Regions from separate parts of the Homo sapiens genome. Here all the other regions are linked to region 4. Evidence: fine-mapped expression QTL. A gene starts in region 4. Each other region holds a variant in brackets. All regions are shown on one strand. Distances are from middle to middle. Region 1 overlaps SUSD4 (sushi domain containing 4). Region 2 has its middle 47 kb from the start of TLR5. Region 3 has its middle 89 kb from the start of CCDC185. Region 4 holds the start of SUSD4 (sushi domain containing 4). Region 5 holds the start of CNIH4 (cornichon family member 4). Region 6 has its middle 120 kb from the start of CCDC185.

The links.
Region 1: its variant is fine-mapped to the expression of SUSD4 in whole blood (TOPMed, PIP above 0.99).
Region 2: its variant is fine-mapped to the expression of SUSD4 in whole blood (TOPMed, PIP 0.96).
Region 3: its variant is fine-mapped to the expression of SUSD4 in whole blood (TOPMed, PIP above 0.99).
Region 5: its variant is fine-mapped to the expression of SUSD4 in prefrontal cortex (GTEx, PIP above 0.99).
Region 6: its variant is fine-mapped to the expression of SUSD4 in whole blood (TOPMed, PIP above 0.99). The same link has a PIP of 0.9 or more in T cells and blood mononuclear cells.

The regions. Positions count from the first base shown.
Region 1 is chr1:223,227,613-223,232,685 of GRCh38, forward strand. It overlaps SUSD4 (sushi domain containing 4), which reads right to left. Exons shown (of 9, transcript NM_017982.4): 6 at 1,585-1,776; 7 at 1-126. Among named protein-coding and RNA genes, the nearest start is that of TLR5, 87 kb to the left of the region's middle. The variant C/T (reference allele first, on the strand shown) is at 2,724.
Region 2 is chr1:223,187,707-223,192,779 of GRCh38, forward strand. No RefSeq gene overlaps it. Among named protein-coding and RNA genes, the nearest start is that of TLR5, 47 kb to the left of the region's middle. The variant G/A (reference allele first, on the strand shown) is at 2,827.
Region 3 is chr1:223,480,306-223,485,378 of GRCh38, forward strand. No RefSeq gene overlaps it. Among named protein-coding and RNA genes, the nearest start is that of CCDC185, 89 kb to the left of the region's middle. The variant T/A (reference allele first, on the strand shown) is at 2,544.
Region 4 is chr1:223,361,644-223,366,716 of GRCh38, forward strand. SUSD4 (sushi domain containing 4) reads right to left here and starts at 2,533. Exons shown (of 9, transcript NM_017982.4): 1 at 2,414-2,533; 2 at 1,635-1,817. The coding sequence starts at 1,782.
Region 5 is chr1:224,355,411-224,360,483 of GRCh38, forward strand. It overlaps CNIH4 (cornichon family member 4), which reads left to right and starts at 1,469. Exons shown (of 5, transcript NM_014184.4): 1 at 1,469-1,583. The coding sequence starts at 1,515. RefSeq lists enhancers at 1,122-1,261, 1,819-2,319 and a silencer at 1,542-1,911. The variant G/C (reference allele first, on the strand shown) is at 2,739.
Region 6 is chr1:223,512,627-223,517,699 of GRCh38, forward strand. No RefSeq gene overlaps it. Among named protein-coding and RNA genes, the nearest start is that of CCDC185, 120 kb to the left of the region's middle. The variant C/T (reference allele first, on the strand shown) is at 3,046.

The sequences.
Region 1 (5,073 bases), 130 kb before region 4:
TGAACTTGGTCTGGAACATCCTGGCCAGGATGACGAGCAGCAGCACCAGCAGCACACTGGTTGCCGTGAACGCCACAATCTTCCACGTGGTCAGGAGGGTCTCATGGGTGCTGGGCCACGTTTGCTCTGCATGAGGGAGAACAAAGCTGTACGTGAGGCTCCCAGACCATGAGAGGTGCCGAGGTTCCCCGTGGGCTCATTTGCTGGATTCATCTGGCACAAGAGATGCGTGCAAGGTGCCTCTGACCCCCAGGGCTCGGCAGAGATACCATGTGCCCCTGTAGCTCATGTAAATTGCATCAGGATCCACCCAACACTAAAAACCTGTCTCCAGCATGGGCTCTGCCAGGTTGCAGACCTGCATGCTCACATTCCAGTCCCAGGCGCAGGCCTGGCACAGGCTTAAATAATGCATCTGCCTCTTGAGAACAGAGGTGGGCATCTCTCTTGCCTGGAGAAGTTGCTCCGAAATGGACCAAGGGGTGGGGGAGTGGGAAGCTGGGCCCTTTGTGAATGTTCTGGGATATGCTGTGGGGTTGGGTAAAGCAAGAAACAGAGGGTAAAGGGGACCCCTGTTCCACAGCTCTCATGCCCTACCACCTCTAGCCATCAACTGCCTGCCAGGTCAGGGGCAGCAAGAGCAGACCTTTCCAGAAGAGACTTATCCTTTGGGCACAGGCCACCCTGTCTCTTAAATGTCTCTCTGCCTTGTCATGACCACCCTCTTAGACACTCTCTTTGCACTTCTCCCCCGGCTGGCTCACAGGATCATGTGTGCGCCTCCAGAGACCTGGCATTAACAAGTGCTTCCTTGTGTCCAGGGGAAAGGCATGCAGTCATCAGCACTGCTCAGGGCAGCATCCCCAGCCTGGAAAGGGCTGGAGAGAGTGGGAAGGAGACAGTGGGTGTGTGCTGGTGCCCCAGTCTCTATCCTGTGGTCACTACCCAGGTGCACTGAGGCCAGTGGGGAAGGTGGTTTGCAATTAAGTCATTTGCTTTTAACTATGAAGCCCTGAAGCTTGCAAATGGCCTATAGTTTTACAAGTGAGAGCAGGTGTTACCCACAGTATCATCTGTATTCTGATATGTGTCCTTGAGTGGAAGAGAAAGGTAAAGTTATGCGTTGCTTGGGTCCAGGGCAATGCATCTAATTCTGGTCACACCCACAGGCCTGTGTCCTTACCAGTGGAAAAGGACAAGGCTGGGAGAAAAAAGAGTGTGGAGGCTGGAGGTCTTTCCATGGATGCTAGGGGTCTAGGGACCCTGTTTAGATGGTCAGCTTTTTAACCTGGGAATGGACAGGTTAATACTCCTGACCCTCTGAATAGGGTCCCTAGGCCCCTAGCATCCATGGAAGGACCTCCAGCAGACAGTTAATACTCTTGACTGTCTGAACAGGACCTACAAGCATCTGGCACAGAGCCCAACAGCAGCCCCATCGACCCGCAATGATATGTTTCGATATCCTGTTCCTGACACTGGGTGGGGGAGGAGAGATACAGCTTGGTACATAACCACCACCCACTATGTGCAGATGGTCCAAGGAGGGTCCATCTCCTCCAAGGGTGAGGCCTTCAGTCTTACCTGATTTGATGCAGTAGACTTGATAAGAAGGAAACCACTCTCCATACTGGCAGGTGATGTACTTGTAGTCGCTGGTGAGGCTGTAGCCAGGATCGCAGTAAAACTCCACCACAGTTCCGTGGTTGTAGCGCTCACAAGGCCGCGGGTGGCAGACGAAATCTCCGTGACTCACCATTGGAGGTAGTGGACAGACTTGGGCAGTAGGGGAGAATAAAAGTTTCAGAACCACAAGCTCACCTTTGTCTGAAGCCCCTAAGACGAAGAATGGCCTAGGAGAACTCAGTTAAAAATGTGCTTATGGATTAATCACCAGGCTACTGAGTTGCATTAGAGATGGTCTCTTTTTTAGTATTTCATGGAAGGCGGAATGGAAGCCTGCTGTAATATTCTGAGCACGTGCCGTTGTGACATGGCATTGTGAAGTACATCGTAAAAGAGAGGTTCGTTTTACAATGCAAAGAGTATGCCTATTTAATAGAGAGTATTAAGCTACTGTATTAATAATGCATGCTATTATGTGCCAGACAACCTAGTAAATAAAATTAACATATTTCTGTACAAAATCTTTACTGAAAGGCATAGTTATCCCAAGCCTGTTTCTGTGACCACAGTAGTAATTTGGGTCTATTAAAATCACAGGGCAGTGTCCCTAACCTGATCCCCTACAGCTCTGCTGAGGCTTAGCCAATGACGAACATGGAGCAGTTCTTCTAGCTCTGCTTGCAGAGCCAGGGCACAGCCTCCAGGGCAACCAGAGTTAGGTGCCTTGGGCATGAGGCTTGGTTCTGCCACCAACACCACACTGTGTGACCTTAAGCAGATCCCTTAACCTCTTTGAGCCTTGATTTTTCTCCTCTGTCAAATGGAAGCTTATTCTACCCTAGGAGGACGCCTTAGGGTTCTGACTCGAATATCCCATCATGTTAGGGGAAGAAAAAGTTGTTTTTAGTGTCTTTAGTATCTTGGTACTGCATTCTAGGTTGCGAGGTAAGGACGGTTCCATCTCTGTCACCACAAAGACGGCTTCAGTGGGAGTTCGGTGCTTTTTATGCCACAAGGAGCTCATTCTTGGATGAGGACTCAGAAATAAACAGTGCTGCTGCTTAAACATTCTTCAAGAAACAGTCAAACCACAGATT[C/T]TATCAGTGCCAACTTCAAACCCACACTCACAGAAACCAGTAAGAATTCTGACCAAAAAAAAAAAAACCTAAACGAAAAAGAGTTAACTTTTGATTCCCTCCCTTGGGGTAACCAAACACCCTGGCCAGTGCAGAACAGGCACTGCCCACCATACAGGCCAGAAGAGGTGCCCTCTCCACACTGGCCACTGAAACTACTCACTGGCAGCAGTGGGTGCCACTTGGAAAACAAGATGGCCCTCCCTGCAGAGCAGGCCACCCTGCCGGAGGTGTCCCGATGCGTGTGAAGCAGGGTTGGAGGCACACTACAGGCACTCTCTAGTCCTTCAAACAACACTGTAGTGTAGATCTTGTTGGTTCTTTCAGAGAAGGGGAAACGGAAACTCACAGAAGCAACTAGAGGAGTGAGTAGAAGCCCAGGTATGCTCTAGACAGGCCTAGGTCTGAATTCCGGCTGAACTACTCACCAGCCGAGTCACCCTAAACCAATCCCTGTGCATCTTTGAGCTTCAGGGTCCTCAGCTGTACAACAAGAGTCTCTGAGGGCTATCTCGAGAAATGCTGGTGAGGGCTTAGTTCAGAGCTGACAAACTGTGATTATTCAGGGAAAACCAGGACTTGAGTATCTAAAGAGATGGAATTTAACGAGGTGATGGCAAAGTGGAGAAGCCAGCAGGAACACCCCAAGATTAGTGAGAGCAGGAAGCCACTACCGCTCCTGGGCTGGTGGGATGAAGGGGTCTCGTTGCTGGGGTCCCTAGTGGAAGGTGGAACCATGGAGGTCTATCCCGCGGGAACTGGAGCCCGGGGAAACTCAGACCCCGCTGGAGATGTCCCCAGGGCAGGAACAGTGAGGGAGAAGTAGCCTGGTTCTCCACCTGCCCACCCTCCAGGCTCCCTCTGGACAAAGCCAGTGGGGAGCCAGGTGACAAGGGGGTCTGGGAAACAGGGTCTGCGGTGGACAGCCTGTCTAGATCTGGTGCAGTGCAGGGAAGGTCCAGGGCAGATCTGAGGCTGGCAGGCCCAGGTGTGCTCAGTAAATGGTGGCTGTCAGGTGGCTGCTGTGAGCATCCCACAGGTGGACACTGGCAGAGACAGGCTTTGAGCTCTGACTCTGAGGCCCAGGAGCTTTCTGCTGCTCTGCCTCAGGGTCTCTCCTGGGCTGGCAAATGCAGTCACACAACCCCTTGCATTTCCACAAACAGGGGCTCTTTTCAAGTTTGCTACCACCAGGGTGCTCTGGGAGCATCTCCAGGAAATAAAGCAGAAGGAAGCAAAGGGAAGGACAGCTGATGAGGAACAGGGAGAGAGAAAAAGGCACTGGCCACGTTGTTGAACTGGTCCTGGGAGATCCAGGGATGTGGCCGTAAGGGCTCTTCTCTCCTTGGAGGCCCTCCTCCGTGCTGCTTCTCCTCTACTCAATTCCTGGTTCTTCCCACAAGGAAGGGGTCTCCAGTGGCCCCGGGACTGCCTGGGGGCCCCCTTCCCTGCACTGCTGGAGCATTCCCCAGCGCTGTTGTACGCTCAGGAGGCCGGCATCTTCTCTGGGACAGGAGCCCCTTTCTGTGGTCAAGGGTATGGCAAGTGTCCATTGACAGATGAATGGATAAAGAAAATATAGGCAATATACACCACAGAATATTATTCAGCCTTAAAAAGGAAGGAAATCCTGCCATTTAGGACACAATGGAGAAACGTGGAGGACGTTCTGCTAAGTGAAATAAACCAGGCACAGAAAGACAAGATACTGCATGATTTCACTTATATGTGAAATCTAAAGAAGTTGAATACATAAAACCAGGGAGCAGAACAGTGGTTACCAGGGTTGGGGAGGTAGAGGGAATCAGAAGATGTAGGTCAAAGGGTAAAAGGGTGCAGTTCCATAGGACGAAGCCCAGAGCTCTGATGTATAGTATCCAGACTCCAGTTAATAATACTGTATTATACACTGGAAATTCACTAAGAGAGTAGATTTCAGGAAATGGATTATGTTAACTTACTTGACTGTAATAGTCATTTCACTGTGTAGATGTATCTCAAAACATCATGTTGTACACCTTAAATATCTAACATTTTTATGAAAGAGAAAAAGAGGTACACAGAGCAGGAAGGCACTTCTCCTCAAAGGCTCTCTAAACAAGCCCCTGAGGGCCACTGTAGGATTAGAAAATTACCAAAACTCTTTTCAAAGCACAGAAAATGTCATGAAAGAGCCCACATAAATGTATGCAAGTTTGTTATCAGCAGCATTTTTTTCTCACTGGGCCTGAAAGATGAACGACTGTTCAAATCATTGCATTCACCCCGAGGCAAATGGTCCCATGGTGTGCTCAAGAATTTCTGTACCATA
Region 2 (5,073 bases), 170 kb before region 4:
TGCCAGTTAGAATGTAGAGAAACCAGATCACTCACACATTGCTGGTGGGAATGTAATGGTGCAGCCATTCTAGAAAACTTCGGGAGTTTCTTTAAAAAACTAAACGTGCAACTACCATATCATCCAGAAATTGCACCCTGGGACATTTGTCCTAGAGAAATGAAGACTTATCTTATGTTCCTACAAAAACCTGCACATGAATATTTACAGCAACTTCATTCGTAATAGCCCAAGAACTGGAAACAACCCCCGTGTCCTTCAACAAGTCGGTAAATGATTAAGCAGACTGGTTCATCCATACCATGAAATACTACTCAGCCATGAGAAGAAACAGCCTTGATACACAAAGCAACCTGGATAAATCTCCAGAGAATTATCCGGAGTGGAAAAAGCCAATCCCCAAAGGCTGCTACACAGTCCGTGACTGCATTAGTTTAACATTCTTAACATGACAAAATTATAGAGATGGAGAACAGGTTGGTGGTTGGCAGGAGTTAAGGAGGAGGAGAGGGCATTGACAAGGGAAGGAAATGGGTATGTCTATAAAAAGGCAACTTGAGGACCCCTTGTGATGATGGAAATGTTCTGTTTCTTAGCTGTATCAATGCCAGGGTCTTGGCTGTGATACCGTACTGCAGTTTTGCAAGATGTTACTATCGGGGGAAATTAGGTAAAGTGTTCATGGGATCTCTGCATTATTTCTTACAACTGCATATGAATCCACGATGATCTCAAAATAAGAAGTTTAAAACCACAAATGTGGGGAGGAGAGAGGCAGAAGTGTTTGAAAAGGCTAGAAATTATCAAACAACAATTTTAAAGTTCTATTCATAAACAAAGTAGAACTATTTGATTTCCCATTGTAAATAGAAAATGTGATTTTACATGCCCAGTACAACATATATGCTTAATAAATATTTGTTGGAAAGATGGTGGTGGGGGTGGATGGATGGAAAGCGAATAGCTGCAAATCCTGTCAGCAGGCAGTGTAGGGGCAGAGAGAGGATGAAGGAAAAAGAAAAGACAAAGAGATAAAGAAGGAGGAGGAAGGGGGAAAAAGAGCAGAAGAAGAGAAATAAGAAGAGAGAAAGGAGGAAATGAAGGGGAAAAGGAGGAAGAGGAAGAAGGGGAGGAAGGGGGAGGAAGAGGAAGAGAAAGAGAAGTCAGGGGAGATGAGAAGCATGGTGCTTTGTGGCATATTGACGGTGGGCAAGGCTGTGGATTTTTCTGAGCAGCCTTGGTGTGGAGAAAAGACCTCCCAGGGTGCATGGCGCCCGCAGACACCCTGGCTAGGCTGCCCCTTGTTGGGTGGAACTGCTCCCTCCCTCTTTGCTGGGCACCTACTTTGTCCCCTGGTGGGTGGCTCCTGTATGGGTGAGGTATTCCAGCTCTCTGGGCCCTTTCCTTCTCACCCTGTATCGGCACAGCTCCAGCACCAGGTCATGGTCACAGACAGTCAGAATGTGCTGATGGAATTTTCCTGTTGATTTAAGCTAGTGAGACCTTGCTTGTCCTGGAAAAACTGGACATGAGAGAGGTAGGGGGAACAGGAATTGCTTTCCAAGAATCTCCCTCATATGGGGTGCTCTGAAGGCCTCTTTTGTCATCTCCTTCTCCTTGGGAAGGGGTTCCTGGAAAGGTGCTGGTGCAGGAGGGCACTGGTGCAGGTAGCAGCTGGTGCAGGTGGGCGCTGGTGCAGGTGGGAGCTGGTGCAGGTAGGGGCTGGTGCAGGTGGGGGCTGGTGCAGGTGGGAGCTGGTGCAGGTGAGGGCTGGTGCAGGTGGGGGCTAATGCAGGTGGGGGCTGGTGCAGATGGGGGCTGGTGCAGGTGGGCGCTGGTGCAAGTGGGGGCTGGTACATGTGGGGGCTGGTGCAGGTGGGAGCTGGTGCAGGTGGGGGCTGGTGCAGATGGGGTCTAGTGCATGTGGGGGCTGGTGCAGGTGGGGGCTGGTGCAGGTGGAGGCTGGTGCAGCTGGGGGCCGGTGTAGGCAGATGCTGGTGCAGGTGGAGGCTGATACAGGTGGGCACTGGGGAAGTTAGGGGCTGGTGCAGGTGGGGGCTGGTGCAGGTGGACCTGCCAATTGGGACTAGGTGTCAGCCACAGCCAGGCGAGGGGGAAGGGAAGGAGCTGTCCTGGCTGGGGGCTTGGGGCACCAATTTGCAGGTGAGTGAGAAACCCCAAGACCAAACGTTTGATTGCGTGCATCACCTTTGTGTCACCTTTCAGTGCTGGACTTGTGTTCCCTGGAGACAGGGCCATGATCTTCTCTCCCATGTGTCAAATCAGACAATGGACACTGAAACACTGCGCTGGGGCCTCAGGAGGAGGATGAGGAACAGGATAGGGGGACACCCACCTCTCTCTGCCCAGGACGACTCAGGGGTGTGCCTCCTAGCAGCTGTGAAAACACTAAAGGATTTACAACATTCCCGCTTATGTGGGATTTGGATTCATTTCCACAGCTCTACCTATGAGTAAGAGAATCTATTCAGCAACATGACATCACGGAATGGCAAGAGTGACAGCTGCAGAGGTGCCAGATGTTGTCCCATCTCTGTCTCACTGTGCTCTGGCCTTCTCTGGCCTCTCCTTTCTAACCCACCAACCCTGTCTGGCTGGGATATAGGCCTGGTTCATAAGTCCCCTCTGCTATACTCCACCTTTGCCTCAGGTCTCTCATCCCTTTGCCTTCTGCCCGCCACCCACCTGGATTGGAAGCCCACCGTGGGGGTTGTCTCTTGGCTGCTGAGCGCTCAGCAGGGCCCCTGTGGTCAGCAAATGGGTGATGTGGGAGTGCAGATGACACACCCTGGTTGGGTTCTTTCC[G/A]TGAGAAAGTGGCATTGGGTATTTCTAAAATGACTGTGGTTTTCTTAAATTTTCTAACCACAAAAATGTTATGAGTTTCTCACCGTGGCAGATCAAATAGAAATATGATTCATGCTTCACAATTTGTGTAGCCAATATCATAGATATTTGGTAGTTCTATTATGTATCTGACAGGTACATATATTTTTTTCCTCTAAGAGATTGTTCTGTGTGAATAGATAGAAACTACTTAAATACAGTAAAGTCTATTTATTACAGACCAAGAGCAAACAGTTTACTAAATGGAAAAATGCTGAAGTCATTTCTATTAATTCAAGATCAAGACAGAGTGCCCATTGTCATCACTATTGATCTACACAGCATTGGTGGGTTTAACTAATAACAATAAGATGAAAATGAATTGATTGGAATAAGCATTGGAAATGAAGACAGAAATGTCTTTATTTGCAGATGATTGAGAGTATACCTAGACAACCTATAGATCCTAATAAAATAATATTAAAATTAGTAAGAGAATTTAGTAAGGTAGATAGGTAGATAAATATATAAATATAAAGCTTTGGTTTATGGTAACAATAAACATTTGAGAAGGGAAATGAAAAAAAATAGCCTATTCATAATAACAGCAGGCACTCACTATACAATTCCTAAGGATGCATTTAACAAGAAAAGGTAAACTATTTACAGAAGTAAAATGATACAATCGTATTGAAGGACATTTTAAAAAAAACCCTCAGCAAATGGATATGTACAAGCCATGCTTCTGTATGGAAAGATGTAACATCAAAAAATACCAGTTCTTAAAAAACTAATGTATTAAATTTAAGACATTACTATATAAATTTAATGCAATTGCAGTTAGAATTTTACTTCTAAGAACCGGATAAAGTAATTTTAGATTCTATGTAGATAAAATAATTGTAAAGTAAATGTAAAATAACTATACATTTCAAATGTTCAGAGAAAAATAGTGAAGAAAATGCGAATGCATGGGGACCAGTTCTAGTATAGACAATAAAACTCAGACTCAAGCAACCAATACCAAAACAGTATGTTGCTGGCACCGGATCTGGCCAATGTATTAAGGAAACAGACCTGAGAGCCCAGAAATAGATGAGTAGAGAAATCTAAAATATGATGATGGCATTTTCAGTCAGAGAGAAAGGGTGGTTCCAGCAATTGTTCAGGTACAACTGTTTATCCAACTTTAAGAAAAACAAACAGAGATTCTACTTTAACCATATGTAGAAACAAATTCTAGGTGATTTAAAGATTTACTTGTCAAAATAAGACATTAACATATTAGGACAGAATTTAGGGGTCTATTTATATAATCATAGAGGGAGGGAGCACTCTTTCCTTCCCTTCCCTTCCCTTCCCTTCCCTTCCCTTCCCTCCCTCCCTCCCTCTCTCTTTCTCTCTTTCTCTCTTTCCTTCTCTCTCTCTCTTTCTTTCCTTCTTTCTTTCTTTCTTTCTTTCTTTCTTTCTTTCTTTCTTTCTCTCTTTCTTTCTTTCCTTCTTTCTTTTTTTTTTTTTTAAATAGAGTTTTGCTCTTGTTGCCCAGACTGGAGTACAATGGTGTGATCTCAGCTCAACGCAACCTCCACCTCCTGGGTTCAAGTGATTCTCGTGCCTCAGCCTCCTGAGTAGCTTGGATTACAGGCCTCTGCCACCACACCTGGCTAATTTTGTATTTTTAGTAGAGGTGGGGTTTCTCCATGTTGGTCAGGCTGGTCTTGAACTCCCGACCTCAAGTGATCTGCCTACCTCAAACTCCCAAAGTGCTGGGATTACAGGCGTGAGCCACCGCGCCCAGCCAGAAGGAGCACTTTCTAAACAAGCTAGAAATCCCAGAAGCCATCAACAAAGGGGGAGATATATGTTGACTACATGAAAATTAAACATTTTATAAGAGAAGGATCCATGAGCAAAATCAAAGAGCAAACAACAGACTAGGAAATGTATTTCCAACACACAATCAATCTCTTAAACCATTGAAAAACTATGAATTAATTATACTTTTAAAAGATAAATTTAAATTGTAGCAAGAAAATGCTAAAGGACTATGAGCTGCTAATTTGCAGAAGAAGCAATCCAAGCACCCAGAAAACACATGAAAGGAGACTCAGAGAACAGAAATTCAACAAATGAGGCAACAGGGCCACCTAAGGTTTTAGGGTGACCAACTTGTCCTTGTTTGCCCAGGAGTCTCCTAGTTTTGAAACTCCTTAGTCCTGGGCAAACTGA
Region 3 (5,073 bases), 120 kb after region 4:
CACTATGTGTATAAAATTGTGTGTTGGTGGAGGGTGTGGGTTGGGGCTGTGGGATGATCATCACTGGAAGGTGAACCGCAGCTCCATGATAACCTTTTGTGCATACACGTCATTTGTAATTAGCCAGGTCTGGAGAGTTCGAAACTGGGAGAAGAGAAAGAAGAGAAGAGAGAAAAGGAAAATTAATGAAACAAGTAACCTGCCTTATATGGATATTTGATTTGCTTGTTTGCACATTGTTTAGTCCTTACAAGCTCTGAAAATAAAACACAAGCACAGTATCAGGCTCAATTAGGTGCTTAAGAAATACCTTTTGATGATGACAAATGGCAGGGATGTTAATGACACTGCTTCCCTCCAGCTCCTGCTGCACAGAGCGCCCTTGGCTCTTCAGACTTACAGCTCTTTGCCTGAGCTGCTGTGAGCAAGCCTCTGCTGCCCACAGGAGATGGCCCTGTGGGCAGGGCCTCCCTGTGTCTTTTCACCTTTTGAGACAACCCCATCCACCTCTTTGGGCAGCAGCTCATAGCAGGTGCTCCCTGAACATGTCTGCCTTTGACTTGAAGGGGTCGGGACGCCGCTTGAGGATGCTAAAGGGAGGCAGCTCATTGTAATGCCTTCACCTCCACCACTTCCAGGAACTCCTCCTCTCCTTGTGGATCTCAGGGCTCATACGGTTTGCCCAGAGCCCAACAGCTACAAGTGCACTCAAACAGAACATTCCTCCGTGCGTTTGCTCTTGCAAAATGTGTGTTGGGGGCGGGGGCGGTGGCTCATGCCTGTAATCCCAGCACTTTGGGAGGCTGAGGAGGGTGGATCACCTGATATTAGGAGTTTGAGACCAGCCCGGCCAACATGGTGAAACCCCGTCTCTACTAAAAATACAAAAATCAGTCCAGCGTGGTAGCAGGTGCCTATAATCCCAGCTACCTGGAGGCTGAGGCATGAGAATCGCTTGAAACCGGGAGGCAGAGGTTGCAGTGAGCTGAGATCGTGCCACTGCACTCCAGCCTGGGCCACAGGGTGAGACTCCGTCTCAAAAAAAAAAAAAAAATGTGTGTTGGATCCCATGGTTCCCCTGCTGCCCAACACACCGAGAACCAAACGCACACTTGCACGCTCGCCGTGGGGCCTCAGTCACCTCCTGACTCCCAAACACACAGCTCTCACTGCTGCCTCCCGTGCTCCCCCAGGCCAGCGCTGGCTCTCTCAGTGCTAGTATCTTTTTATAAGGATACCAGTCGTGCTGCATTAGAGCCCACCCTACTCCAGCATGACCTCATCCTAACTTAACTAATTACATCTGCAGTGACCCAATTTCCAAATAAGTTCACATTCTGAATTACTGGGGGAATAGAATTTCAACATATGAATTTTGAGGGGACACAGTTCAACCCATTACTGCAGCTATCCACAGAAGAAAGTCCAAATTCCTTATGTGGCATTCAAGGCCCTCTGTAATCCAATGAGATCCACGTTTCCAGCTGTTTCTCTTCTTCTTCTCCCCTAGGTGCACACATGTGATACTGTTTTGTATCAAGGCAGGATTCTGAGATTAAGTGAAGAAAGGGGAACAGTTAGGAGAGTAGCATCTGCTGAATGTTTACTAAATGCCACCGTCAATGACAAGTGTGTTTTATCTACGTCACTCTACTTTTTTTTTTTTTTTTTTGAAACAGAATCTCACTCTATTGCCCATGCCGGAGAGCAGTGGTGCGATCACAGCTCACTGCAGCCTCAAACTCCTGGGCTCAATCAATCCTCCCAATGCAGCCACTGTGGAAAATGGTATAACTTTCTCAAAAATTAAAAATAGAATTATCAAATGATCCAGCACTTCCACTTCTGAGTATATACCCAAAAGAATTCTAAGCAGAGATTCAAACAGATATCTGCACACTCATATTTATAGCAGCATTATTCACAATAGCCAAGAGGTGCAAACAACCAAAGTGTCCATCAAGAGCTGAATGGATAAACAAAATGTGGTCTATCCATACAATGGAATATTACTCAGGCTTGAAAAGGAAGAAGATTCTGATACATGCTACAACATGAATGAACCTTGAGGACATTATGCTAAATGAAATAAGCCAGTTTCAAAAGGATAAAAACTATATGATTCTACTTACATGAGGTACATAGAACAGTGAAATTCACAGAGACAGAAAGTTGAATGGTGGTTTCCAGGGGCAAAAAAAAAAACAAGGGAAGATTCACACTCCCTTGCAGGTTTCTCTCCACAGACCTCACCAGGTGTCAAAAAAAGAGTTCTCCAGGGGATTCCAATGTCTGCCAAGCTGTAAAGCCATCGGCCTTTTGGGTAGTTATCTTCATTTCTTCTTTGGGGAGAAGCTTGATTTTCTGTAAGCTGCAGAAGATAGCTCAAACCAGCAGCTCAGCCAGTTAAGGGGACGGAGGCTGCTGGTCTGCATCCTTCCAATGGTCTTTCGTCTCCCTTTTTCTCCTAACTTAAAGCTTTCATGATGGAGAAGTCTTCCCTGTTGTCTGCAATTTTCCTTCTCTCAAAACAACCTTCTGAA[T/A]CCTCTTTTGGGGTGGGGTTTCAGATGTTGTGAAACCATCACATGCTTATGAACTAGCAGACATACAGCACCGGAAGTTGAGAGGGTGGACTGCTATTAGACTGCCTGGGCTGAGTCCTGAGGGCACCTCTTGCTTGCTTGAATGACTTCGGGCAAGTTACTTCACCTCTCCAAGATGTCATCGGGGCTCATCAAAGTACCCGCCCCATGAGGTCTCCTTGTGAGAACAACATGAGAAAAGCCTGTGCAAAATGCTTGCCTGCCACGTAGAAAAAAAGCTTCCATAAATGTTGGTTCATATTGTGAGCTTTCAAATCAACCAAGTGTGAATAATTTCTACTTCATTCCATTGGCTATGGCAGGGGAATACAAAGATTTGTCAGAGCCATTTCCAGCCTACAGGAGTTTACAGCTATCTGACTTTACAGCTACGAGTGCCGTGAGAGAGCTACAAACCCAATGCTGCAGGTGTTCAAAGTCAGAGATTTAATAACCACGGAGCCGGGAATTAGGGAAAGCCTAATGGTGAATGGATTTAAGCTGACCCCGGTGGAATATGAAGTACAAAGCTGACTTCCCTGCAACTCTGTCTGGTGACATCCTTTTCTTTTTCCAAAGAGATACTCAAGACTCAGAGAGATTCAAAACCACCCAAGGGTCACAGGTGGTTTATCAAAACCCCCACCCCACCCCCCAAATACACACCAAAAAGCTAGGTTTAATAATCCATGACTCAGAACCTGGAAGGCTCTCTGCAGGGCTGAGGGGCCTCGCCGGCTGTCTATGACTGCTGCCCGCCTAGCAGGCACTGACCCAGGCCCCAGGCTCCAGGACAGTGTGCTGTCAGCCAGAGGCAGCTGTCAGCCAGACTGCTCCCCTCCTCTCAGCCTGGCAGGGGTACTCAGGGTAGTTCTCTCTGTTGGGGACCCTAAGCATGAAACAGTATTGGAGGAGGCTGTGCTGAGAAACCCACTGAGGGAGGAAGGCTGACGGTCTGTGTTCTTCTAGTGGTCTCTCTTCACCCTTTGTTCTCCTAGCATAAAGCTTTCACGATGGAGATGCCTTCCCCATCATCTGCAGTTTTTCTTCGCTCAAAACAAGCTTCTGAGACATCTTTCCGGGGAGCTTTGGTCATTAGAGCTTGGGAGAGGGAGGCCCTTCTCTTCCGGTGTCCTCACAGGGTCTCTGTCATTTAGATTCTTGTTGAACAACTGGGCTTTGGAGGGGGTTGGAGGAGACAGTGAGTGATGGTGCTGGGGCCCAGGGCCATTCCAAGCAGAAGAAAGGCACTAGCAGGGGCATGAGGCAGGACAGCCCAGGGCATGTGTGGACATCTGGGAAGAGTCTGTCTATATTCTGACTAGGAAGTGTACATGTGAAGGAGTGAGAGGTTAGACTTGAAAGATGAGGGTAGGTGTGGGCCAGACTGCAGAGGGTTGTCCTTACTGCAGTGGATCACGGGGAACCATGGAAGCTTCCAGAACAAGAAGTGAGCTGAGACAACAACTGTGACATATAGTTTGTTGAGTGAATGAATGAATGAATGTCTGAGGAAGACACGACAGTGGCAGGAGGGGAGAGTCCCCTACAACAAGCCCCACAGCCCTGCTGCATATGCTTAGGTAACCAGTGTGAACTGCTCTGCAAATTCAGACCTCAAGTAAAGTCATATCTATTCTATTTTTTACAAATGAAAAATAAAGCCAGCTCAGACCTACATGCCAGAGGAATGAGAAGTCCAAAATCTCTCTCCTGGTACTCCCTGTATCCCTCCCTGCTTTTTGCTGTCAGCTGCCGTTGACGCTGGTCCTCTGAGTCTAAGACAGTGCTGACTGCTGCCCAGGTACAGGCTTCCTTGATCTCCAAGGGAGGAGTGTGCCCACATAGTGCTCCGTGGCTCCCTCAGTTCTCAGGGCTCTGGTACTCACCTCCTTCAGGCCCACACCCAGGCATCCCCCTAAGGACAGCAGTCCTAGGAGCCTCCACGGAGTCTCTCAGGCCTCCACCTCTGTGCCTTCATGTCCTGCCTTCCCTAAACACCCATCACACAGGAAGTGGGGCAACTTTCCTCTTCCAGCCTTGGGACACAGAGGACAACAGCTTTCCTGGAAATGTGGTCACCCTAAGTATTGCCAGGGGTCCAACAGCCTCCGAATGCAAAGGGTCTAAAGACACCTTTTTCTCCAAAGATGAAGTCACTCTCCCTCTTCAACACAGAGATCCAGATCCTCTCCTGGGAACCCAACACCCCCATCCCTTTTCAGGTGTGAAAGAGGCTCCGTTTAGTGCCTCAAAAAGGACTTACTCCACTAAGAAAAACCAAGGAAATGCCAAGATCTCTTTTTGGGAGCAGAAAAAGAAGAAAAAGGGAGAAGGGAGGAATATTGAGGATCTCCCACTATGTTTATATTGTAACATTTTTCATCCTATATTATAATTTCTGCTATTTTACTTGGAATTTTCCTTAAAATTAGATATCCTTTATATAGTAAAATCTCTAGCATATAGCATTTGTTTATTAGTTACTGAG
Region 4 (5,073 bases):
TGTGCTCAGACCTCACCCATCCAATAACAATAGTCAAGACAAATGTAAATGAACCTTGATTAACTAGTCTGTCATCTACATAAGAGAAATGGACCAAGAAGATGGAAAATCATGTGGACCTGGTTTGAGAGAATGAAAGCTAGAACTGGGAGGCAAAAGCAGAGAGGAGGGGAGGAAATGATCCAGATCCACGCAATACTGTTCTGCCCGTCTATTCCCACTCATATGTGAAGCAGAGCTGGTGTCCACGGCAGATTAGAGGCTGTGACCAGAGCCCTGGCAGGGCACACAGGTGCTGGCCTGGCCTCACACTTGACCTTCTCCTCCATGAAGAGGAAGCTTGCCTCAGAGAAATCTCTATAAAAAACTACAAGCATCCAAAAAGTTATTCCTTCTTAAAAAAAAAATACAAAAATAAAAATAAAAACCAATGTCCACCCAAAGCAAGTGTTTTCTCACTAATTTTGATAGATATGCACATTGCAATAAACACCTTTATACTCTGGGCATCTTTCAGATGTCTAAGTGGAATGCCTGGGTTATTGATTACTCTGTGTTAAAGCCCAACTTATTACACCTCTCCTCCACTTTTGCTAATTTTTCACTCATTTTTTTTCCATTTTCACCTTTGAATTCTCTGAAACAGCAATATTTTAAAACGCTAAAATGGTTTATTTACATCAGTCAATACTTGCTTTTCAACCAAAGATAATTTATTTATATATTAACAGTATCTCAGCTCCTTTTAACGTCCACATCAGCAAGCTCTAGAGAACGTTTGCAATGGACAGGAATGATGGACAGCAATGAGCAGTGGAGGCAGGGAGACTAGGCTCTCAAATTCAGACAGGAACTCCATCTGTCTTCCTCTACCACAACTAAAAGATACCCCTCCCCCAGAACCAAATATGTTATAGATTAGCCGCCCACGGAGGCTGAGGCTATCAATTTTATTTCAGCTAACTTCTACTTCATAGAAGAGCAACTGACTTTATTCCCTGAAATCATACCTCGATGAGCAAAGCAATCTGTCAGAGGCACACCTGAAAGAATACCTCTGCACCTCCTCCACGCCCCCAACATACACATACATGCTGCACACACAGGGGAAGGGAAAGTTAACTTTCAAATAAACCTGCCCCGCAGCCAGTCTGACCACGTTTCCAGACCCTTCACATTCTCAAAGGTGGTTCTTAAACTCTTGCTTAAATCCAGAGGCTGAAATCTGACCTCTATCTGCTGAAGGCATTGGCAAGAGGTCCACAAATACACCACTCCCCACTGCCCCCACCCCCCACCCCTCCCCCCCCCGCCCCCGCTTCCTTGGCCAAAGTGGGAATAATGGGCCAGGCTTTATTGTCTTTCCTTGGGAGAAGCCAGGCCCGGAGGCTGGTGGGAAGCTCCAGACAGAATGTGGGTGTGTGAATCTGTGCGGGCTCCACATGGGAATTTTCAGGGAACTCCAGCGGTTTCGGAGAAGGGCGGCCATAGGCTGGGACGCAGGCACCCTCGCGTTGTCAGATCCTCCTGAAGTCTGGGTGTATGGGGGAGGGGTGCAGGGCTGTCCTGGCAGCTAGGCTCTTTCTCCCCTCTGGGCCATCCCCAGGCCCTCCCACCACAGCTGGGTCACTCACCGCCCGTGAGCTGTGCAGGGCCGAAGCACAGCGCCAGCTGAAACCACAGGATCACGGCCAAGAGTCTCTGGGGGGACTGAGGTTGCTGCTGCTGCTGCTGCTGCTCTAGAAATCCATCTCCATTGCTCGGGTTCATTCCATGATACATCTTTCATCCACAGAGGGCATCCAGCTTGCAAGAGTCTGCAACCAGAAGCGGAACACCACAATAAGCCAGTCTGTCCGGGCTCGGGGGCCACGCTCCCCCTCCTCCGCTCTGGGACCCGGCGCCTCGGCTTCCCAGGCTCCATCCTGGTTCCTCCCCCGCGCGGCCCCCGCCCCCTTTCCCACGGCGAGGTCCCCCGCCTTCCCCCGAGCCGGGTGCACTGAGTAACAGCCGCCGTGGGATGCTGCGCGTGCTGGGGGATGGAGGACAGGAGGGAGGGCAGGGGTTAGCGCACATTGGCTCCGCGCCGGTCCCCGGGATTCAGCAGCTGTGCCCACCACAGGAAAGTCTAGAGCCTCCCCGCGTCTCGGGGCCGCGAAGACACTTTTCCCTGGGCCTATACATTTCACTCTGGGAATCTCACAATGTGGCACCGTCTCCCCCAGCTACTTCTCTGGTTTTCCTCGGGATTGGGATCGATCCTACTGCCCCAGTCCCCAGTGAGATTTCTCTGCGCTGTCAAAAAAAAAAAAAAAATTCTCCCTTGGGGAGCTGCACCAGGCACCAACTCCCCCTCCCCGGCCTGCGCGCGCCTCCTCGGAATGGAAGACCCTTCCGGGACTGTCGGTCTTACCTGTGGGTCTCATGCATGCAGCTTCCTTCCCTCCTCCGCCTCCTCCCCCCGCCAGTCTAACCCGCATCTGTGCGCGACCTCTGCTGCCGCCGCTGCGCGAGCGAGCGAGACGGAAGCTTCGGCGGCGGCGCTCGGCTCCAGCTCCCCCGCCCGCGCGCTCCCTCCCCAGGCGCCCCCGAGCGGGCGGGTGTTGGGGGAGGACGGGAGCCCGGCCGCGCGCCCCCGCGGAGGCGCCCGCGCGCCCGCTACCTGAACTCGCGAGCGCGCGGCGGCGGCGGCGCGGAGAGAGGGAGTGGGTGGGGACGGGGTGAGTGGGGGGGCGGGGACGGGGCGAGGGGTGCGCGGGCGCGCGAGCACGCGCCTCTGCCAACCCAGCCGGCGCCGCGGCGTGGCCGGAGACTGGCGAGGGCGGGGACGGGGAAAGGGGCCCGCCGCCGCGACCAATGGGAAGCCCGCGCGCCTGCACCTGTCGGGGCGCGAGGCGCCGGCGGCCGGTCTTGCACACGCACGCAGCTCGGTCGCCCCTTCCCCGGCGCTGGACTGCAGCCCCTGCCCCGGCTGCGCGCCAGCTCAGGTGCCCGCCCCGGCCTCCGCGCGGCCTCTGGTGCCCCCAGCCCGCGGCGCGGCGCGGGAGAGCGCTCCGCCCTAGAACTACCGCCGCGGCGGTGGCTGCAGACCCGGGGCGAGTGCGCGGCCGGCAGCTCCCAACCCCAGAACTCTCGCCACAGACCCGGTTAACTTGAGCACCGCCAATTGCCCGAGTCTCTTAATTTCCCGCGTTAACCCCTCCCCGCTCCCATCTCCGCCGAAGCTCTGCGCGTCCCCAGGGAGCCCGAAGGACCATCTGAGGCGGCTGAGAGACACTCTCCCCCTCCCCCACACCCTTGGTATTTTCCCTCTGCCAGCCGCAGGTGTTGCGAGTGAGGACCCCTGTCCGGTCTTGGAGATGCGCGGGGCCCTCGGAGCCTTGGCCTGGGAGGCGCTCCCGGGGGCGGGGAGGCGGGGGTAGCGGGTGATTGGTGACACGCAGAAGGTTGGGTACCTGGAGGAGGGGAGGCTTCCGGGGTCGTAGATGGGAAGCCAAGGGGGTCGGTGGTAATTGCCCTCCCAGCCCCAAGTGGAGAGAGTTGGCCTGGTCGGTCCCCTGTCTCTGCGCCGATTCTGGTGTCGGAGCTCAGCCCGCAGTGGTTGCAGCTCTCACTCGCCGCCGGCTCTGATCGCCCGCGGTCGGTTTCAAGATAGGGAAGCCCACATTCCAGCCACAGTGATTAAGAGGTGTCAGCTAATGAGGTGGCGTCCACCGGCAGCGCTTTAGAGCCAGTGACACTCCATGATTCTGTAGCAATTTGTGGATATGAAAACTATGTTCCTGATACAGCTACTAAATCATCCTTTGCTTCTATCGACTTTCCCAAAATCTCACATACTGATGGTAGTTGGGAAATTACAGCTTTTATACTGTGTCAGCTCTTACTGGGAGTAATTTTAACACATTCTTTCAGGATAGATTAGCTTTTAGTAGATAAGTCAAGCTCCGTTATTTTGTTTTTTGCTTTTGCGTGTGTGTGAAATTGAGATGGCAGCTTTGCACAAAATAAACAAGATGTTGACTAGCACAAGTCCAGTTTTGCTACAGCTTGTACTTTGGGACCCCAAAATCTTAGTAGGGGACCATCCACCTTCCCAAGGTCCTGTGACTGTCCTCTACAGTTTGTATATTTATTCCATTTTTCTTTCTTAGTAAATTTTCTAAATCTTTTTAAATATCCACCAAATCAACAACGGTCAGAAATATTTGTTGACCATGCACATGTTCTTAACAATTATAAGAGATATATCTAAGTGCCATTGAAATCTGTTCTTTGGCTGGAGTACAATCTAATTTTAACAGAGAATGTTGGGACTGAAAGGAACATTCAAGTTTATCTGATCCAAACATGGGATCTATGCTTGAGTTTCCTCTCTGACATTTCTAATAAGTGGTCATTCAGCCTCACTGAATACTCATCAAGGTAGCCTGTTTATATTTGCCAGCAGGTCTCTTAGAAAAGTCTTTCTTATATTGAACTGAAATCTACTTCCCTGAAACCTTTACCCACTGATTCTGGCTCTCCTCTGTGGGCCCACGCAGCTAAATAGAATTCCTCTTTCTTAAGAGAGCATCTCATGGCTTTGGAGATGGCTTCGTGTTCCCTTGAGTCTTCTCTTCTCTGGGTCACGCATAGCCATTTCCTTCAGTGCGACGATTCCCAGACTTTTCACCAGCCTGTGGCCTTTCTCTGACCCAGTTTCTCAATGATATCCACCCCCAGCAATCAAAGTTTGTTTCCAGAAAGAGGCCCTACTTTCCCTCTGTGGGTTCTGACCAGTACAGGCCGGTACTGTTGCTTTCTGTATTTTAAACAACTTGCTTCTATTAATTCAGCTGAAGAAGACAAGCATTTGGAGGGCAACTACAGCATAACATATTGTTATTATTATTATTATTTTTAATTATTGTTATACTTTAAGTTTTAGGGTACACGTGCACAATGTGCACGTTAGTTACATATGTATACACGTGCCATGCTGGTGCGCTACACCAACTCGTCATCTAGCATTAGGTATATCTCCCAATGCTATCTCTCCCCGCCCCCCACCCCACAACAGTCCCCAGAGTG
Region 5 (5,073 bases), 990 kb after region 4:
GTGTTGAGCCAGAAAGTATTGAGCCTATACAAAGACTTCAGTGAGGGATTCCCTAAAACGAGTGATACCAAGCCACTTACTGCAAGTAATGGATAGTTACATGAATGTAAGAATAGATTTGGACTGAAAAATATAAAAATCACTGGAGAGGCTGCATCTGTCTCTTCATCTTATCACATAGGCATTTTATCATCATACATCATCTCAAAAAGAAGGGTCAGTACAATAAGATATTTTGAGACAGAAAGACCACATTTACATAACTTTTATTACAGTATAATTGTTCTATCTTATTATTACTTGTTAATCTCCTACTGTGCCTGATCTATAAATTAAGCTTTATCATAGGTATGTATATATAGGAAAAAACATAGTACACATAAGGTTTGGTACTATCCATCGTGTCAGGCATCCACTTGGGGGTCTTGGAAAGTAGCCCCTGCAAATACAACTGTATTTGTTAAATGAATGAATGGATGAGTAAGACATCGTATTCACTTCTTAAAGATCTTAAAATCTAGAGAGGAGAGAAACATTGCTGTAGGAGAGGATAAACAAAGGACTGTGAAATCTCTGGAGAAATTGAAATCAGGAAGGGAAGGGCAAATCGCAAAAGTCAAGCCAGGAGCATTAAGTTAGATTTGTGCTTTGAGATGAAAACCCCTTACAAATCCTAAGTCAGGGAATGCAATGGTTCTAGAGCCAACTCTAAAGAAAATTTCACACATGGGAAATACATCCTACTGGATATCCGGATTAAAAGCGTTCAGTAGAGACTGGTGCAGTGGCTCAGGCCTGTAATTCCAGCACTGTGGGAGACTGAGGCAGGCAGATCGCTTGAGCCGAGGAATTCGAGACCAGCCTGGGCAACATGGCAAAAACCCCATCTCTATTAAAAATACAAAAAATTAGCCAGGCGTGGTGGTACATTCCTGTAATCCCAGGTACTCAGGAGGCGGAGGTGGGAGGATCACCTGAGGCCAGGAGGTAGAGGCTGCAGTGAGCTGTGACCATGCCACTGCACTCCAGCCTGGGCGACAGAGTGAGACCCTGTCTCAAAAAATAAAATAAAATGAGAAATAATAAAATAAAATTAGCTGGGCATGTCGGGAGGCTGAGGTGGAAGGATTGCTTGAGCCCAGGAATTCGAGGTCATAGTGAGCTCTATCACGCCACTGCACTCCAGCCTGGACGACAGAGCAAGACCCCAGCTCTTTAAAAGAAAAGCGTTGAGTAAATACTTGTTGATTAATTCCATTTCTGGAAATAATCGGATTTATGAAAGAGGCCCTGCCCACCTCTTTGATATGGACTTGTACTAATGAACTACAATTCCCAGCATGCGTCAGAATTAGGGCCGTAGAGTTTTTTAAAATATGGACTACAACTCCCGGCATGCCACACCAGGATTCGAGGACCACACGCCTCAGCCAGCCCCGGCAAGGGCCTATCAGGGGTGGGTCGGGGCATCCGAGCGGGTTTGACGGAAGGAGCGGCGGCGACGGAGGAGGAGGATGGAGGCGGTGGTGTTCGTCTTCTCTCTCCTCGATTGTTGCGCGCTCATCTTCCTCTCGGTCTACTTCGTATCCTTGCCTGAGGCAGGCGAACGCCTTGCCGGGGGACACGGCTGAGGGTGGGCCAGTTGGGCACCCGGGCAGGTGTGTGGGACTAGGGAGGCGCCCGGCGGCGGGCGTGGGCTCCCTGGGAGCTGGCCTGGCCGGGGCGGTGGCGCGGGCCCCGGAGCGGGTAGGAGAGGCTGGCTGCCCTACCCGACGGGCCCTGCTGCCCTGCACGCACTTGCCCTGCCTGGGTTGCCGGCCGCCCCTCACTCGGGTCCGAGTGGGCCTCTCCGGGCGCGCCCCGTCTCGGCCTGCCCGCCTGCTCTCCGCTCGTCCCCGCGGCGCCCGGACCAGCCCTGCCTGAGCCACGGCCGCCCTCGGGAGAGAAGCGTCGCTGTTTTTCTGGGAGAGGCCCTGCGCCGTGCTCTTCGTCGGATATTGGGGGTCCCAAGGGCGGTCGCTTGCGACAGTCGGGTGCCGGGATAAGTGCGGGCCATTTGCCTCCTCCTGTTCCCCACGCAACACCCCCGGCACCCGCCCCTTTGTTCTGGCGGGTGTTAGTACTTGCAGGGACCTTTCACATCCAGGAGTTGACTCATTCGCCAAAGGAGCGAAGTTGCTTCCTTCACTGTGCCGTTTTGTAGTGAGTGTTGGAAAGGAGTTGTTTTAACAACTGTCTACAAAGTGATTATTTTGGTTGTCCCCGGTGGTTGCAGATCTGTAAATTCAATAACTACATCTGCTGTAGTTCCCAATCGTTTCTCAGCTTTTAAATTTTTCTATCGATCCATGTTAAAACTTAAGTTGCAGTATTCAAACTGTTTTCCAGAGCAATAAATGGTGGTTGAATTTAGCACTGCAGTAGCCATGTCGGCTACAACTCTTCCCATCTCTTGACAAAGCATCTAGGCTTAGTTGTTGCCCAATGTTGTATTGCACCATCCAGGTTTAAGTAATTAAATATAAGAAAAAACGTATGAGGAACTCCGCATTTCAGCTTCCTTTCTTGGAAATCACATGTACCTGTTTCTGATCGGATTAAACCATTTGTTTGCTAGAGCATGCGGGCTTTAGGATAGTCGTACAGAGTATATGTTCAGTGCAGCTTCATTTTTCATTGTGGACTGGCATCCTGTTGTAGTGGAAAGGGACAAAATTTGGAATCAGATTTCCTGGTCA[G/C]CTAGCTCTTTGCTTGCACATTATTTCCCTAAGCCTCAGTTTTCTGATCTTTAAAATAGGAAATGTTTATTTCCTAGATATGCACAATGAGAATGGTGCTGAGCACCCTAGCACAGTGCCTGCCCCATAGCTAATGTTCAGTAAATATTGCTCTGCCTTCGTGTCCCCACCCTCCCCAATTGAGCAGCAGTTTTTACTTTGATGATATCTAACGACAAGATTTCTGAGTTTTAGTAGGTTTGGGGAGCTGATTGAAAGGGCAGCATCACTTGCCTAAGTTTTGATGACCTCTATGCCCCTCTTGTGATATAAGGAACTAGAGCAAGCTTGTCCAACCCACGGCCCACGGGCTGCATGTGGTCCAGGACAGCTTTGAATGTGGCCCAACACAAATTTGTAAACTTTCTTAAAACATTATGATTCTTTTTTGGTGATTTTTTTTTAAGTTCATCAGCTATCATTAGTATTAGTGTATTTTATGTGTGGCCCAAGGCAATTCTTCTTCCAGTGTGGCCCAGGGAAGCCAAAAGATTGGACACCCCTGAACTAGAGCTTATGCTCAGAAATGTAGCTGGGTTTTTTCTTTTTGCAGTTTGGAAAACCAGGCTTGATAATTTTAAATAGCCCTGGTTTACACCAATTTATGCATTTAGAGAAATGGTAGGTGGAATGTTTGACTTAGACATTACATTAAAATACATTCGGGGGGTGTTTTGATGAAATTCAGCATATTCTGTATTTTAGAATAGTTGCACTAACTTAGGGATAGGAGGTGGAAAATGGTCACGGTAGACTTAATATAGGATATAAGAGTTTTCTTGGACTTTGAACTGTGGACAAAATCTACAGGAAGGGGAAGAGGTGAATATTCCAAATCAGACACTGGCAAGAGCGAAGGTGCAGAGACAGGTATGTTCGTGGATTTCTGGGCTATGGTTAACGAATAGACCATCTGGAGCACATGGTTGATTTTGGCGTCAGTAGAAGGCTAAGTTGGAAAGGCAGGATTACATCAGATTTTGGAGGGCTTGAATGTTAAGGGTGGGAGGGAAGTCTTTCACTTTTATCCTGCAGGCAATAGAGAGCCATTGAAAATTTTTATTTTCGGTAGTTTATTAGGAAGATGAATCTGCCGAGTGGGTTGGAAACAAGAAAGATTGGAAGATAAACCAACTGGATAGGGTCGTCTGGATTTCAAATAGAGTGCTGGTTGTGGGCAGGTGAAAGGAGGGAATATGTGAGTAGTATTTAGAAGAAATGATTGCCAGGACCTACAAATGAGTGATTATGATATATGAAACAGAAGGCAGAGATAGCTTTCCATATTTTGATCCTGGGCAAGTGATACTTGTGTCAGTAACAGAAATAAAACAAATTGGAGGAAGATCAATCTGTGGAGAAAGTGATGAGTTTGACTTTATTTTATTTTCATGTTTATTTTTGAGACAGAGTCTCACTGTCACCCAGGCTGGAGTGCAGTGGCGCAATCTTGGCTTACTGCTGCCTCCATCTCCTGGGTTCAAGCGATTCTCCTGCCTCAGCCTCTCAAGTAACTGAGACTACAAGTGCCTACCAAATCTGCTGCTCAGACTGGAGCGCACTGGTGTGATTATAGCTCAGTGTAACGTGAATCCTGGGCTCTAGGCATTTTGCTGCCTCACCTTAGCAGTACTGCTACTAATAGCTAGCATTACAGGTGCTCATGCCCGGCTAATGAAAAAAAAAGAAAAAATTTGTAGAGATGGGGGTGAGGTGAGTGAATCACTTGAAGCCAGGAGTTCGAGACCAGCCTGGCTAACATAGTGAAACCCCGTCTCTACTAAAAATACAAAAAATTAGCTGGGTGTGGTGGTGGCGCGCACCTATAGTTCCAGCTACTTGGAAGGCTGAGGCACAAGAATTGCTTGAACCCAGGAGGCAGGGGTAGCAGTGCGTTGGAATTGCGCCACTGCACTACAGCCTGGGTGAAAGAGATGGAGGCTTGCTATGTTGCCTATGCTGATCTTGAACTCCTGCTTCAGGCGATCCTCCTGCCTCAGCTTCCCAAAGTGCTGGGATATTTCCCATTTTTTTTTTTTTAATAGCCATTGTTTTACATTTGAAGAACTCAAACTAAATGTTCTGGTTGGGTCAGATTAGATTTGAGCAAAATAGGATTATTTTGTAAAATAATTTGTTGAAGGAACATGAATGGGAAAATTGAGTTGTCTAATGAGCAAACTTTAGGAAACAACTCATTTTTTTCAAGTCAAATCTAATTCTGCCTTGTAACTGGGATTGCTTTCTGAAACTTAAATACTTAGTTATTATAAAAGAAATATAATAATTCCTTATC
Region 6 (5,073 bases), 150 kb after region 4:
ACCTGGCGGACCCCTGGAGTACAGGCCGATCCCGGTGCAGCAAAAACTTGTGCTTCAAGGAGACTCAGACCCTGGTCAAATGTGTCCCCCAAACTGCAGGGAAACCATATTGAACTTTCCGGATGATCTGTTTCAAATTTTTCCATCTTGACTTGAGGAGAAGAAGGATGTACTTCCCATGCCTTATCATATAGGAAAATAGAACCCACTTGTTTTGTTTAATTTTTAGACACAGAGTCTATCTCTGTCACCCAGGCTGAAGTGCAGTGGCACAATCATGGCTCACTACAGCCTCGAATTCCTGGGCTCATCTCTGCCTCCCTAGTAGCTGGGACTACAGGCACACACCCAGCTTGTCACTTTAATTTATAAAGATGAAACAGTAGAACTTTCTCAGGTTGGCAATACTCCATGGATATTGTCATGCATCGATGCCAGAAGACTAATGCATCCTGACCTTGGGAAGAGGAGAACAGAAGCTCTGCATTTGGAATATTTCTGGATTCTTCTGTTGATCAATTTTAATCTGTATCCTTTTCCTGTAATAAATCATAACTGGGTGTCTAACAGCTTTCCATGAGTTCTGTGGGGACTTCTAGAAAATAATTTCAGGAGTTTTTGGAACCTCCTGAATTTGCGATTGGTGTCAGAGTGAGGGCAGTCAGGCAGGCTGTCCCCTCTAACTTTGCAATTGGGAGTCAAAAAACTTCAGAAACTGCTGCTGATGTTTACAGCTGCTCAGCAGCCCTGAGGCAAAAGAGTGGCTGGGAAAAAAATACACTGGAAGAACTCATGCTGGCCAGAGTTAATACACCTGCCACTATGCTGGAAGAGGAAGAATGGCTCAGCCTCCACTCCGGCTTCCTAATCTAGCTTCAAGGCACTTGTTGGCAGAATTAAACCATACTCAACACTCTGCAAACAAGGGAATCCGGGAACAGGCTTCTGAACAGGAGAGAGGCGGAGGAGGTGAACCAATCCCCCACGGGGCTCACCAGGACTCTCTCTGAAAATCCACTTCCTAATTTTCAACTCCAAAGCCTTTGAGGTCCTCACTAAGGATGAGGGGTTTGAGATGTATGTGATGGGATTGTGGAGAGCTCCATGGTAAATTCTGCAAAAAATCTCCCTCTTCCTTTGAATGATGTATTATCCAGGAGTTTCAGCCACAAGCACCATTTTATCATCTCATTACACCAATCACAGCTAAGGCTACAATAAACACTTGGAATAATAAGGTGCAGACACAATTACATGCTTTACCCTTCTCTGGTCTTTGAGAATAATAAACATGGTCACAGAGCCTGGTATTCAGATGAGGCTTTCCTGAGGACCCTTATTTCCAAAATCTGAAATTACCAGAAGGGTAAATTAAAGAATGAATACTCATTTGGTAAAAAGGATACCTTGTTTACAAAATAATTTTACTTTAATGGTAGGGATTTCCAGCTATTTACCACTTGTCAAACCAGAAGAAAGAAACTCCAAAGTGTTAGGAGCTATTGTTAAAGATCAATTAAGACTGTAGAAACCACATCTCAGAAACATTTATGAAATTAATTGAGAATTATAATTTGTATCACACACTGTTTCTATGAATGCATCTCTTTTCTAAAATAAGACCCAGCTGTAAATTATGGGGACAACATGGGTTGGTAAATGCTCTTCAGATGCCTGATGGGTGCATTTCCTGTCTCCCCTGGGTGTTAATCTCCTGCGTGGGAAGACTCTGTTTTCTGTGTGTATCACCTAGGATGCTTTTGGCTGCGAGTACAGAATATTTCAACTGAAATGGCTTAAACAATAAGGACATTTATTATCTCACAGGTCGAGCTGTCTGGAAACAGGAAGTTCTAGGCTTGGTTAATTCTGTGTGATGAAGTTGTCAGGCACCTGCTGCCTCCCCTCTTTGCACTCTGCCATCCTCAGTGTCATCTGGTCCCCTCAAGGTAGCTGGATGGCCGCTGACCACTGGTTCTCACACAAGCCCATCAGAAGGAAGGGAGGACAGCCTCTCTTTTACATTTCTTTTGTTGCCAGAGAGAAAATCCTCCCTAGTAGTTCTCTAGAAGGCTTCCCTTGCTGGTTCCTTAGTCAACGTTGGGTTTGACATGCACTCCACAGCTTTGAGAAAGCCTGGAAAGTGAAATGGCATTTGCAGCTGCTTCTATCTTGAGAGTGACGTTCTCAGCCACAAAGGAAGAAGGAGATTTAGAAACACTGTTGGTTCAGAAACCAAACATATCTGCCACAACACCCAGACCCTGCCCTCTTCTAAAGCCATAGGCCAAGGCTCTGGCACAGCAGGTGCTCAGCAAACACAAGCTAAGAAATAAAACATCCAAGAGCCAGTGCAAACCAGTGCTCACTCAATCAATCTCAATTTCCTAATGGGTATTTCCAATTTTGATATAGAAGCCTCCTACACAGGCACCAAGAGCCAGTCCCCCTTTGCCCACCTCTTGTCCAGGAGGTGGCTGGTCAGGCAAACCCATACCACAAGTAAGGGAGCCTTTTCCAGGTTTTGTTGTTATCTTGTTCTCAAGTCATTCAAGAGACTGACTTTCCTGGCAGTGGAAACCTGAAGACCCTTGCAGGAGAAGAGCCACTGCCAGGAGCAAAGCTGTCCCCACACAGATGAGAGCCTTTGCTAGTCTTGACCTCGGATCTGGAAATAGAAGGGTCTTGTTCATGTTCCCAAGGAAATTGAGGAGAACACTCTTGAGTTAAAACAGGTGCTTCACACAGGGCCCTTTAGAGGAGCTAAAACCAAATGGCTTTCAAGAGAAGAGAACAGTAGTTCAGAGACAAACTTTATCAGACGTTTGGATAGCCCCATCCCCAGCAGGGACCTGTGGGCCAGGACACTCCCTTTTCCTCAAGATGTAGCTGGGGACTCACTGAAATGTCACAGCCTCTTCAACTTGCAGTTGTGACAAAAACTCACTGATCTCAGTGGCCCCGTGGCCTCTTACCAGCATTCTGTCTGTACACTCAGCTTCTTCCAGGAAACCAGAGAAAAGGTAAAGGCTTCACTAGAGATCA[C/T]ATCAAGCACGGAAATCAGAAAGGGGCTTTGCCACAGATAATTTTGAGGTGAATGCCGGGTGCCTCCCAGGAAGCCACATGCCACTGGAGCCGGAAGAAATACAAAAGATACTCATTTAATACCTGAGGAAACTGAAGCCCCAGAGGGAGACACACAGGTATTTTGGCTCATTGGAGAAGCTAATGAGCCCACTCTCCACTCCTAATTAGTTGTATCATATTGGACAAGTTGATAACCACTTTGAATATTGGTTTCTTCATCTGTAAAATGGAGTTAATAACGTTGGCTGCACAGGGCTGCTGTGAGCATCAGACAAGATGAGGCGTGCAGGGGTGGTGCATCTTGGAACGGGAAGTCTCTGCCCAGCTTCCCTCCCCCGCCACCTCCCCACACTGCCTCGGGGCTCCTGGGGGCTGCAGCTGGCTGGGCATCCTCACTGTGTGGACACTATCCTCTCTCTCCACCCAACTCAGAGGCTGTCAGCTCAGGCAGACCAGGCAGGCAGGGGACCCCCTCCCGGGATTCCCCACACGGGAGTGTGGCCACCCTGGCCAGTGGGGCTGAGCCCTCTGAGGATGCACAGCTCCTCCCTCTCCTGCTTGCTCAGAGCCATCTGTTCTTTGTCCCCATAGAGAGGCCAAGTCCCAGAGCCACGGGGAAGATGGCAACTGCTGCTGTAAGGGCTGGGGCTCATGCCTCCTACCACTTCCTTCCAATCCCACCCTGGCCTGCCCTCATGGGGGCCCCTGGGCCTGTTCCCAGGCTCAACCACGTGTCAGGAGCAAAGCTGGCCCTCAAGGACCAGGGACACCCTCCCTACCTCCCTCATGCCTACTCCTGGGAGGGGCTGGACAGGACCCATTGTTGTCTGGGTTCTGGGTAGTCAGTGAGTATCTAAATGAGAACAATAGCCCCATAGACCATTCTGGAAGAATGTCTTCAGGAAAATCATTGTTCATAGGGACCAGCCGTTCTGCCCCACAGCTCTCCTGGACTCTGGGCACAGGTGGGGAGGGCCTTGGGGTGTCCTAAGCACTATGCCCTGACCAAACACCAGCTACCTGACTTCTGGGCCCTTCCATTCCCTGCAAATCCCTCATTTGAATTGGAAATGACTCCTGCAGAGAAAGCTTCCAGCACAAATAGAGATACCCAGAGCCTGTGGGCAGCCCTGGGGTGGCAACCCACATTCCTACTTGCAACTTCTGGTGGGACGTAAGCACGAAGCATTATGCCTCAGGATGCTCTAAAGCTTGATGTGGAGACATGGCCTGCCTGACAAGGGATTGGTAAGGAATAACTGAATAGCAATTGTATTTTTAAAGCACTTTGCAAAGTGCCACATAAATAACTCCTCGTGTAAGTGATTGTCACATATATAAAATGCTATCGATGGCAGAAAAAATTATCTCTGGCGGCAGAGACACACATATCTATGCCAGGAAAGCAGGTCTCTGGTAGGGAGGCACCTGTGGTGTACTGAGAAATAAATGTCAGCAGAGACCTGTCCCTGTTCTTGATCTCCCCATTGCCACATGCAGACCACAGGAGATGTGTTTATGTGTGTGTGTTTTTTTTTTTTTTTTTTGAGACGGAGTTTTGCTCAGTCACCTAGGCTGGAGTGCAGTGGCGTGATCTCTGCTCACTGAAAGCTCCGCCTCCCGGGTTCACGCCATTCTCCTTCCTCAGCCTCCCAAGTAGCTGGGACTACAGGCACCCGCCACCATGCCCAGCTAATTTTTTGTATTTTTAGTAGAGATGGAGTTTCACTGTGTTAGCCAGGGTGGTCTCGATCTCCTGAGCTCGTGATCTGCCCGCCTCGGCCTCCCAAAGTGCTGGGATTACAGGCATGAGCCACCACGCCCGGCCATTTATGTGTTTTTTAAATCACCAGCAATGAAATCCACTTAAAATATTGCAACAGCCCTGATGTGGGGAACTTATGGTGACATAGATCGCACTGATTACTGCCTTTGATTCTTTGAAGAGTGTGAGAGACTAAAGCAGAACTATTATTTTTCAATCTT